2 separate regions of the Homo sapiens genome follow, and region 1 is linked to region 2. The links come from fine-mapping of genetic effects on gene expression. A gene starts in region 2. The other region holds a variant in brackets. All regions are shown on one strand. Distances are between the middles of the regions. Region 1 overlaps EPB41L2 (erythrocyte membrane protein band 4.1 like 2). Region 2 holds the start of EPB41L2 (erythrocyte membrane protein band 4.1 like 2).

Region 1 (5,383 bases), 110 kb after region 2:
CAGAATAAAGAAGTTTCAGCAGTAAACTTAGCCCCAAGTGTTTTATCCTGAGACAGATACTGGCTTAACATCTAATTTATTTACTTTCATTTAATTAAAAAACATCTATGATTTGCAAAACATACAGTTCATTAGCGCTGGTGCTGACAGAAGTCACTTTAATCTTTTAACGCATCTAGTACCTTATAATTTTATGTCAATCAGAAGAGTTTGTTGCTTTCCACAAATTATTTACGTAACGTATACTAATAGCTAATGTTTGCTGAAGAACTGTGTGAAGTGCTTTGAATGGATTATCTTGTTTAATGGATTATCTTGTTTTATTGATTAAGAATCAATAAAGGTAGATATTATCATTGCTATTTTCAGTGTTACATGTTACAACGGGGAACTTAGGGCTTAGAGAAGTTAAATTCCTTGCCCAAAGTTTTAGGGCTGGGTGCGGTGGCTCAAGCCTGTAATCCCAGCACTTTGGGAGGCCAAGGCGGGCGGATCACGAGGTCAGGAGATCCAGACCATCCTGGCTAACATGGTGAAACCCTGTCTCTACTAAAAATACAAAAAAATTAGCCAGGCGTAGTGGCGGGCGCCAGTATTCCCAGCTACTGGGGAGGCTGAGGCAGGAGAATGGCGTGAACCCGGGAGGCGGAGCTTGTGGTGAGCTGAGATTGCGCCACTGCACTCCAGCCTGGGCGACAGAGCGAGACTCCGTCTCAAAAAAAAAAAAAAAAAAAAAAAAAAAAAAGAAAGAAAAGGACTAGCAAAAGAGGATTAAAAATCCTTGTCTTAGTTGTCTTAGTTTTTGCTGTTGTAACAAAATACCGTCAACTGGGTAATTTAAAAACAACATGAATTTATTGCCCACAGCTCTGGAGGCTAGGAAGTCCCAGATCAAGGCACCAGAAAATTTGGTGTCTGGTGAGGGGCTTGATCTCTGCTTCCAGGATGGCCCCTCCTTTCTGGATCTTCACATGGTGGAAAGGCCAAGTGCTGTGTCCTCACCTGATGGAAGGACAAGGCAGCTCCCTTCAACCTCAGTTACAGGGGCACTAATCCCAGTCATGAAGGCAGAGTGATTAAGTCATTTCCTAAAGACGCCACCTCTTTTTTGTTTTTTTTTTAATACTTTAAGTTCTAGGGTACATGTGCACAATGTGCAGGTTTGTTACATATGTATACATGCGCCGTGTTGGTGTGCTGCACCCATTAACTCATCATTTAAATTAAGTATATCTCCTAATGCTATCCCTCCCCCATCTGCGCACCCCATGATAGGCCCCAGTGTGTGATGTTCCCCTTCCTGTGTCCAAGTGTTCTCATTGTTCAATTCCCACCTGTGAGTGAGAACACGTAAGACACCACCTCTTAATGCCACCACCATAGGGATTAGGTTTCAGCGTGAATTTTGGAGGGAAGCATTGAGACCATGGCAGTCCTTAAAGCTTTCTTTTCTTCTCCTGCTCTTTTTAACACTTTGTTTGCCCTTTCCTGAGACTCCCTTTCTATCCCAGGGAGAGAGGAGAGGTCTTAGGGATAGGAGTAAGAGACCATAAAGAAAGGGACAGAATGGTTTTTTGAACTTGATTACATTATATTTGATTGCATGTCCCTTGTCTTTCCTACCTATCCTAGAAATTAGGGGATGTAGATTTTTGAGAACCAACTTGATGTTAATGTGACCTTAAGTCATTTGCTCAACCTCTGTAGACCTCAGTTTCTTCATCTGTAGAATATAGAATTATTTAGATCATCTAGAATGCCCTTTTATTTCTGAAGTTCTTTATATCACTAAACCACAAGACTGACCAACGTACTTTATGGTTTAAATCTATCTTTGTTCTCTTTTTTAAAAAAAATCATAAAATATTTTAAAAATACAAAAATATAAAAATAATAGAGGAGACAGTTGTGTATCCAGCACAAAAATTTCTATCATTTGTTACCATTTTGCCATGTGTTTTAGATTTTTTTTTTTTGAGATGGAGTCTTGCTCTGTGGCCCAGGCTGGAGTGCAGTGGCACGATCTCGGCTCACTGCATCCTC[T/C]GACTTTCTGGTTCAAGCGATTCTTCTGCCTCAGCGTCCTGTGTAGCTGGGATTACAGGCATGAGCCACCACACCCAGCTAATTTTTGTATTTTTAGTAGAGACGGGGTTCCACCATGGCCAGGATGGTCTCGATCACCTGACCTCGTGATCCGCCCACCTTGGCCTCCCAAGTGCTGGGATTACAGTGTTTTAGATCTTTAACAAAATAGAACATTTAAGACATTGCCAAAGTCTCATTCTCATCTTTTCCTTCTTGTCCTGCATGTATCTTTTTGTGATATATAAATCTATTCATTTAGACTGTTGTATAGTATTTCTTTGACTAAACTAGTTTATTCCCCTCCTGAGTCACAGTTTCTTTGTATACTATAAGAAATAGTTCTTTAGTGAACATTTTAAGACATGTTTCCTTGTGTAAGAGTTTCTTCAGGGTAGATACCTAGTGGCGGAATTGCTAGATTGATGGAATCCAGTTTTACTTCTTCAGTTTCCCCAGATATTGCCAAAATAATAAATGAAATTGATAAAATTGACCATTTACATTTCAACCAGCAACCATTAAGTTTGATTTTGCCACATTGTCATCGGTGATTCTTGTTACCAGACTTATTAATTTGGACCAATCAAATGTATGTGAAATACCTTCTCAGTATTTTAACTTGCATTTGTTTGATCACTGTCAGCTTTCACTAGGTTATGTTGCAGTAGCCAAAAAATCTGCAAATCTTCACGACTTTTAATAAAAATGGTTTATTTCTTGCTCATGTTACATGTGCTTGGTGGGTTTGTTATGGCTCTTTTCCACACCATCTTTATTTCTGATCAAGACTGAAAGAATAGCCTCTACCTGGGATATGCTGGTTTCATGATAAAGGGAAGAGAAAACATGGTAGAACCATACTACAGTTCTTGAATCTTCTGCTTGGAAGTGGTATATATTACTTTAACTCACATTTCATTGGCCAATTAAGTCTCATGGCCAAGGCTGATAACAGTATAGTGGGCAAGTATGATCCTCTCATGGGAAGGATACTCAAAACCATGAAAACAGTACTACAGCTTATATTAGGCTGGTGCAAAAGTAATTGCAGTTTTTGCCATTAAAATTAATGAGGCTGGCCGGGCACAGTGGGTCATGCCTGTAATCCTAGCACTTTGGGAGGCTGAGGCAGGCGGACCTGAGGTCAGGGGCTCGAGACCAACCTGACCAACATGATGAAACTCCATCTTTACCAAAAATACAAAAATTTTAGCCGGGCGTGGTGGTGAGTGCCTATAATCCCAGCTACTGGGGAGACTGAGGCAGGAGAATCACTTGACTCCATGGGGCAGAGGTTGCAGTGAGCCAAGGTTGCGCCACTGTACTTCAGCCTGGGCGACAGAGTGAGACTTTTGTCTCAAAAAAAAAAAAAAAAAAAAAAAAAAAAAGTACTGAGGCTGAGCATCTTTTTTCTCCTCCCCTCCCCCCCTCCCCCTCCTTTTTTTTTGGAGACAGTTGCTCTGTCACCCAAGCTGGAGTGCAGTGGCATGATCTTGGCTCACTGAAACCTCCACCTCCTGGGTTCAAGCAATTTTCCTGCCTCAGCCTCCCAAGTAGCTGGGATTACAGATGCATGCCACCATGCCTGGCTAATTTTTGTATTTTTGGTAGAGACGGGGTTTCACCACATTGGCCAGGCTGGTCTCAAACTCCTCACCATCTTTTTATGTTTTATTTAGGTTTATATGATCACTCTGAAATTTTTAAAAATAAATATTATTTCTCAGATTAAGGACTTTCTCCCCTAGTTTCTAGACTTACTCATGAGTAGGTGGTGAATTTTATCAAATGTATTTTTTGCATCAACTAAGAGGATCATGTATTTTTCTAACCCGCTAATGTTGTAATCTACATTATTTTCTACTGTTAAACCATCTGAATTTCTAATGTAAACTTGGTAGTGATGATTCTGCATTCATTTTGTATTATTTTTATTTAGGACTTTTGCATATATTGCCTTTAATTTTCTTTTATCGAATTGTCTTCCTCAGATTTTGTTATCTGGGTTGTATTCTATCCTCATAAAGTTGCTTCCCTTTTACCATTACCTAGAAAAGCCTTGGATAAATTACTGTTGGTCTATTTTTGGTGATCTGGTAGAACTTGACTTTAAAACTGTCTTGGATGGTAGCCTTTTTGGGAGAAGAGTGGAAGTGGAAGGTAGTTTTTGTTTTTTTTAAATCGTTGATTCAAATTTTTAAATTTTTTTTTCCCGAGTTAGTTACAGCAATTAATATTTTTGGTAGAGATTGTCCATTTCATCTAATTTGACAAATTTATTGGCATGAAGGTTTTCATAATATTCTTGTTTTGTGCATTTGATTTTTATTTCTTATTTCTAGTGTCGTTTGCCTTTTTAAAATTATTCTTACTATAGATTTACCATTATATATTTTTTCCCAAAGGAAACAACTTGGTTTTATCATTTCTATTGTATCTTCTCTATTTTGTAACATTTCATCTCGTTTTGCTCTTTTTCTTTGGGATAACTGTGCTTTTTCTAATTTCTTAACACTTAAAACATTGCTTTCATAGCTCTAATTTTCCCTTGAAGTACCTCTGATTGATTGTACAAATTTGAAATACAGTTGACCCTTGAACAAGGAGGGAGTTAGGGGTACCAGCCTTCTGCACAGTTGAAATTTTACATATAACTCTTGACTGCCCCCACATGTAACTACTAATAATCAGTCTCCTGTTGCCTGGAGCCTTTCCAATAACGTAAACAGTCAACACAATTTTGTGTGTTGTATTATATACTGTATTCTTAACAATAAGGTAGAGAAAAGATGTTCTTAAAAAATAAGAAGGAGAGAAAATATATTTACTATTCATTAAGTGGAAGTGGATTATCATTAAGGTCTCCATTCTAATTGTCTTCATATTGCCTGAGGAAGAGGAGGAGGAAGAGGAGGGACTGGTCTTGCTGTCTGTTTCTTGGTGGAAGAAAATCTAGGTGTAAGTGGATCCATGCAGTTCAGACCTGTGTTGTTCAAGAGTCAACTATATAGTGCTTTCATTACCATTCAGTTTTAATTTTCTCGTCCTATCCCATTTGGGTCTCCCCTCTCCTCCACTCTCCTCCCCTCCCCTCCTCTTCCCTCCTCTTCCCTTCCCTGTCCCTTTTCTTCTTTTTTCAACAGGATCTCTCTCTGTTGCCCAGACTGGAGTGCAGTGGCAGTCCCTCTTCTTGCCTCAGCCTCCAGAATATATGGGGCTACAGATATATGCCACCATGCCTAGCTTATCTTTAAATTCCTTTTATAGAGATGAAGTCTTGCTTTGTTGCCCAGGTAGG
Region 2 (5,383 bases):
GGGTACATTTCTAGTCCATACTTCCAGACTAACTTTGCTTGCACATAGTGCCCAGGATTGAGGCTATTATGGTAAATTTGGATGTGGTAGCTCTCAGGACTAGTACCTATATTCTTCTCTTGTTCTCTGTGTCAGTCCTTTGCCTGTTACTACAGTGTGTCTAGCAGGAAGACCCAATCTTGTTCTACCTAGAGTGTTTTCCTGGGGATTAACATTCTGCCCTTGAACTGCAGCCTGGTAGTCCTGACAGTGCTTCCGCCTGCCTGAGTCTTTGGATGTCACCTATTCCAGGACTTTGTCCTTCTTTCTGTTCAAACCCCTCTTCTCTTCTTGTTAGACTTCCCTGGTTGTCTGGACTACCACCTGTTGTTTGCTAAATCTCTATGATGCCACTTCCATCAGTTTTCTTCACTTCCTTATAGCTTCTGGGACTTGATTTTTCTGCCCTCAGTTCCTGCTAGGTCCTCACTGAATCTGTTCCATTCCATTAAAATGCCAGGGCTATGTAAGGCTGTGTCCAAAAACAGAGTTCAATTCTTCTTTCACACAATAGCCTTTATACATTTGACAACCTTTTTATCACCTTTAATCATCTCTTTAGGCTAAATCTTGCTGGTTCCCACATTTTCAAGGTCACCCATTTATGGTTATAATTTAGCTTATCAATATTTTCTTTTGGAGGGAAAAATTTCTTCTTAAGAGGTGGCATATAGGAGTGATTCATGTACTTCAACGCAGAGTATAGTAAGCATATCCTTTCTTATGAGAAGGGCATTATATTTTATTAACTATGCCTATATTTATGTTATTTTGCACTAGCATTTTAAAGGGGGCTCCATCAGGGTGGTTCAATGTTTTATGGGCCCAAAAGCTTATATGACTTTAGGGACTCTTTAAAAAACACAAAATGAAATACAAAATTATAAAGTTAGTTTCAAGGCTTGTGAAAATGAGAGATCCCGAAGTTTGTTTCATTAGTTTCGTTGTAAATCTGCTGCATATTTCTTATTATGAGAAAATAATAGTATTTTCTCATTAAATTCCCAGGTCTCCTTTACCAGAATTGCTGTCTAATCAGATTTCTGCTCTGTTTTAGCACACCTTATAAAATTTAACTTGTATACTTAGCATATGGGATTGTGATTAAATTAATACATGTAAGGGACTTAGAACAATGCCTAGCACATAAAGCACACAATCAACCTTAACTATTATTATTTGTATTATTTACTAGAAGGACCTTGGCAAATAATTTATCTTCCCAAATCTTTTTGATGTAATGGAGCTCAAACGTGCCTGCCTTTTTCATAGGGTGATTGTGAGGATCAAATGATGATAAAATATGTGAATGTATTTTGTTAACTGGAAGGTATTGTTACTGAGGTTTCATTTGACATTGTTAATTTTGGAAAAGGTTCTGTTTAGGAAAGAAAGGGAGACGACTTTGGCTGTGGTGGAATCACTAAAGACCTCAATAAAAGTGGGAGGAGTAAAAGGGATAAGAGGTGCGTGTGAGGCAGATGCTGGAGGCAGTGAGCTGGACACGTTGTTTGACACCAGCTTGACGTGCAAACCTTCAAAAGATGAAATATATTGAATCTGAAACATATTGACCTCATTGTACAAAAGAAAAGAACCAGAAGGGTAGCGTGTGTGTGCTTGTGGCTTTCCACAATTTAGCCCCAAACTAGGTTTTTTCCAGACTCTTCTTCACCCGTGGTCATGCTCTGCAATCCAGATTCCCAGGCCTCTGCCCAGAGAAATCCTACTTACTCTGGGGAGGCCTTTCCTCCACGGGGTTTCCCCAACCCCTCCTGTCCCTCCCACAGGAAGAATAAATGGTTCCTTTTCAATGCCCTTCCTGTGAAAGCACTTTTTCCACTCTAGACTGAGGGAGACCCAGTTTTCCTTATTCTGCATCTCCAGGCTCTGCTCCAGTGTTTACCTCTAGGAAGGCGCTCAGTGAAGGTTTAGTCAGCAAATGCACTTTGAATAAATAACTTTTAAAAGTTGAGAGGACATTTAAGGCCGGGAATCGCAGTTGAGAACGCCTTGCCCAGGCGCATTAGCTGTCATCCGGGCTGCCCTGAGGGCGAAAGACGTCCTCCACCCCCGGGTCTCCGCGGCCGCGCTTGCCGAATCCCGCGGGAAAGGTCCCCCGCCCGCGCAGGGGCGGGGCCTGGGCGTCGGGGGCGGGACCGCCCGCGGGGGTTTCCGCGCCGGGGGCTCGTCCGGCGGGGTCGCGGGAGGGGCTTCCGCCGCGAGGGGGCGGGGCCGGCCCTCAGAGTCCTCTGACGGCCCCAGTCAGGGAATTTCAATTTGAAACCTAGCGGAGGGAGGAGGCAGGCGCGGCTGCCGGCGGCTGGGACTGAAGAGGGACGGGTCCCGCGGCGAGCGAGCTCCTGAGGTACGGCGTCGGGGTAAGGAGGCGTGCGGGGCTGCACGGGCCGGGCGACTGGTCAGTGTGGGGTTGCAGGGGCGGCTCAGATTTTTCCTCTGGCTGCAGCTGGGAAGCTGATTCCGGGCAGGAAGCGGTGGCGGGACGGTCCCACCGGGATGGGGGGCGGGGAGAGGGGGCCCGGCTTTGGGATTTTCTGCGGCTCCCTCTCTCCTTTCCTTCCCGGTCTCTGCCCGACCCGATTCTTGCCCGGGGGTCCGGGTCCTGTTGCTCCGGGCCGGATCCCGGCTTCGCTGCTCCCCGCGGTCCCCCTCTTCCCTCTTCCGGGGGACCGGGGCCGCGTCCCGGCGGAGCCAGGAAAGGCGGGGGCACGGGGAGGACGCCGTCCCCCCCGGGGTGCCGTGGGCTCAGGTCACGCGTCCGGGCCCCGTGGAGCAACAGCGGGAAAAATCCGGCTCCATCCCCCCCGCGGGGAGGGGGTCGGCCGCGGCGTCGCCCTTCAGGAGGAAGGTTTTAGGAGGGGAAGCGCGGGCCGGCCGCGCGCGTGGGGACTGCGGGAAGCCGGGCGAGGGCGGCGCGCCAGCCCCACGCGCGGTGCGGGTCGGGCCCGCTGTAGGCTCGCGTCCGCGCCCCCAGCTGCCGCCTGCGCCGTCTGGGAGCTGCGGAGAGGGACGCGTGTTTCGTGCTCCGATCCTTACAATTCCCACACCCAGGCCATCTCACCACAGATGGCTTGTTTTTTCTCCTCCTGCGCCTGGGGGCCGAGGGTTGGGAGCATTTTTAGGTGAGCAGCGGGGAAGGGCGAGGAGAACCTAAAGGAGCGCGACAGGGTTGAAGTCGGCGTCTGGGGACGCCATCCCCAGGCGCAGACGCTGCCCCCAGCAGCCTGAGGTCTGTGGTGGGACATCAGTTATGCTTCTCTAGATCGCTCACCTCCCCTGAGGTCAAGTTTTTTTTTTTATATATATGTATAAATAAAATGAGGTTTGGTGAGAAGAACTACTGCCTAGAGTCTATTATTTTGGGGAGGGGTCTGCGTATGGAGCCCTCCCTACGGACCCGGGTAGTCTTTCATTGAATTGCCCCATCAACACCACAGCTGCCCTTAATTTTAAGATCCCTGGGTGGATGGGAGAGAAGGTGGAATCTAGAGGAGCTGTGGCTATATTTTCGCTTTTCTGAATCACATCTTTCCCCAGTTTCTTGAACTTCTTGCCTCTGAAATGGCATGTGTGTGCCAGGCGTCTTGTTCCTCTTGTTACTGTTATTTAAGCTGTTTTAAAAAAACGACTTTCGCGGTTTTCCCCTCAGTTTTTCAGTCTTTATTTCCTCCCCCACCCTACGTTTTTATTGTTTTTTTCAACGGAATACATTATTTATCTGGTCTCTTTATAACGCTGTTGAGAATTAGCATTTCAGTTGGTGTTCTGTCAGATTTCACCTTGGACTTAGCAGTTGAGGGAAACTGAGTCAGTTTCTATGCTGCAGGGGCTAGGATTTAGAATTCTCAAGCTTTGAACAGGTTTCAGTGGGGGAACGAATAGTGCTTAATCCTATTCAGTTTCCCTTTGCAGGCTCATTGCTGTGAGAAATCACTGGGTGGCTGTTGCAGCCACTGATGGGGGCTGCATTGCAATGCAATCTTGAATTGTGATAAGGGCCAACTGGCTCCATCCGTTAGGCTGTGAGTTTGACACAACTTTTGAAGAGCTATGCTGTGTCACCTGTCAGAGCTCGAGTGGTCATTCTTTTAATTCAATTTAAGAACCACCATCAAACTTCAGATATCTATTCTTTGGAGGTTATTGGAGAACTGTACAAGTGGTAATGGCTTGGAACAATGGTGTGGATTTAGCGCTAATTTAATCCTATCCTGTCTTCCTCACTTCTTGGGCAGAATTCCCACTGAAGTCAGTAGTGGTCTTGTGTGCAGACAGACTGCCGAGAACAAGAGGCTGCTCATTTAGAGTAACGGGAAGGGACGGTTTCTTTCCTTTTAAAACATCCCTCTGTAAGAAAGACTTAGTCATAACAGTTCTTTAATCTTTAACCACTAGTCCAAGTAGTTGAGAGCACTTTTTGCAAAAACCTTCGAAAGAAAATTCGTGGATGAATTGAGCCACGTCCCTCGAACTCTTCATATATCTACGTTGCATGGTGATCCTTAAAAAAGATTAAAAGTGATTTTAAAAAATCAGTTAAAGCTATAATTTCAGTAAAATTTTTCCTAACTTTTGTAAAAAATGTAAACTGCCAGGGAGCATTTTGTAGCAACTAAGTGTGTATATTTCAAATCTGAAATTTAAGTCCAAGTAGAAAGAAGCAAATTTAATTTAGGGGATGAATCTGAAGAGAGGCCACCAAAAAAATAACCATCTAAATATAAAAGAAGGAAGTTCAGATATCTCTTGCTGTTTTTCAGGAGATAGCTTTAGGGCAGTTTGCTCACTTTCATACCTGTTCTTAACGATTTACTGACTGCCTGGGTCCATCATTAGATAATGCTAGCACTTGGAGGTTTCCAAATGAGTTTTGTGCTGATCTGAGTTGCTGAGCTAGTTAGATCCTTGGCTTCTTAACGTAACATTCTTGTGGCTTACCCTTTCCAAATTACTAGTTCTAAGGAATTGAGTTTAGAAAACCTAACCAGTGACCAGAATGTAAAAATAGGTATTTAAAAATCAGAACCATGTCCACGTGTACTACCCAACCACTTGCTTTCAACTAAAAATACTTGCAAAGATGACAAAGCAGTCCACAACCAAAATATTTATTGGTACAATTTCTCTGTAATTAGTAATATTGTACAGTTATGTTTAACATCAGGTTCTGCCCTGAATCACCCCTCTCATATTACTGTGGCTGGTGAACTACAAAGGTTGTATCTTTGCCATTTCATTTAGGAATATAGGGTTTATATTTTATATAGCAGAATGCTAAATATTTTTGAAGGTTTTGTTTTGTTTCTGTTTCTACTCTGTCTCT

The links. PIP is the estimated chance that this variant, and not a neighbour inherited with it, causes the effect. A credible set is the group of variants that fine-mapping cannot tell apart.
Region 1: its variant is the best candidate, but not a certain one, in a credible set for the expression of EPB41L2 in aorta (GTEx, PIP 0.55).

What each region holds. Positions count from the first base shown.
Region 1 is chr6:130,949,403-130,954,785 of GRCh38, reverse strand. All of the region lies in intron 3 of EPB41L2 (erythrocyte membrane protein band 4.1 like 2), which reads left to right. Among named protein-coding and RNA genes, the nearest start is that of EPB41L2, 110 kb to the left of the region's middle. The variant T/C (reference allele first, on the strand shown) is at 2,044.
Region 2 is chr6:131,060,179-131,065,561 of GRCh38, reverse strand. It overlaps EPB41L2 (erythrocyte membrane protein band 4.1 like 2), which reads left to right and starts at 2,317. Exons shown (of 20, transcript NM_001431.4): 1 at 2,317-2,407. LOC105378004 (a long non-coding RNA gene) reads right to left here and starts at 2,159. Exons shown (of 3, transcript XR_942993.3): 1 at 1,946-2,159. RefSeq lists silencers at 2,081-2,420, 2,761-2,860.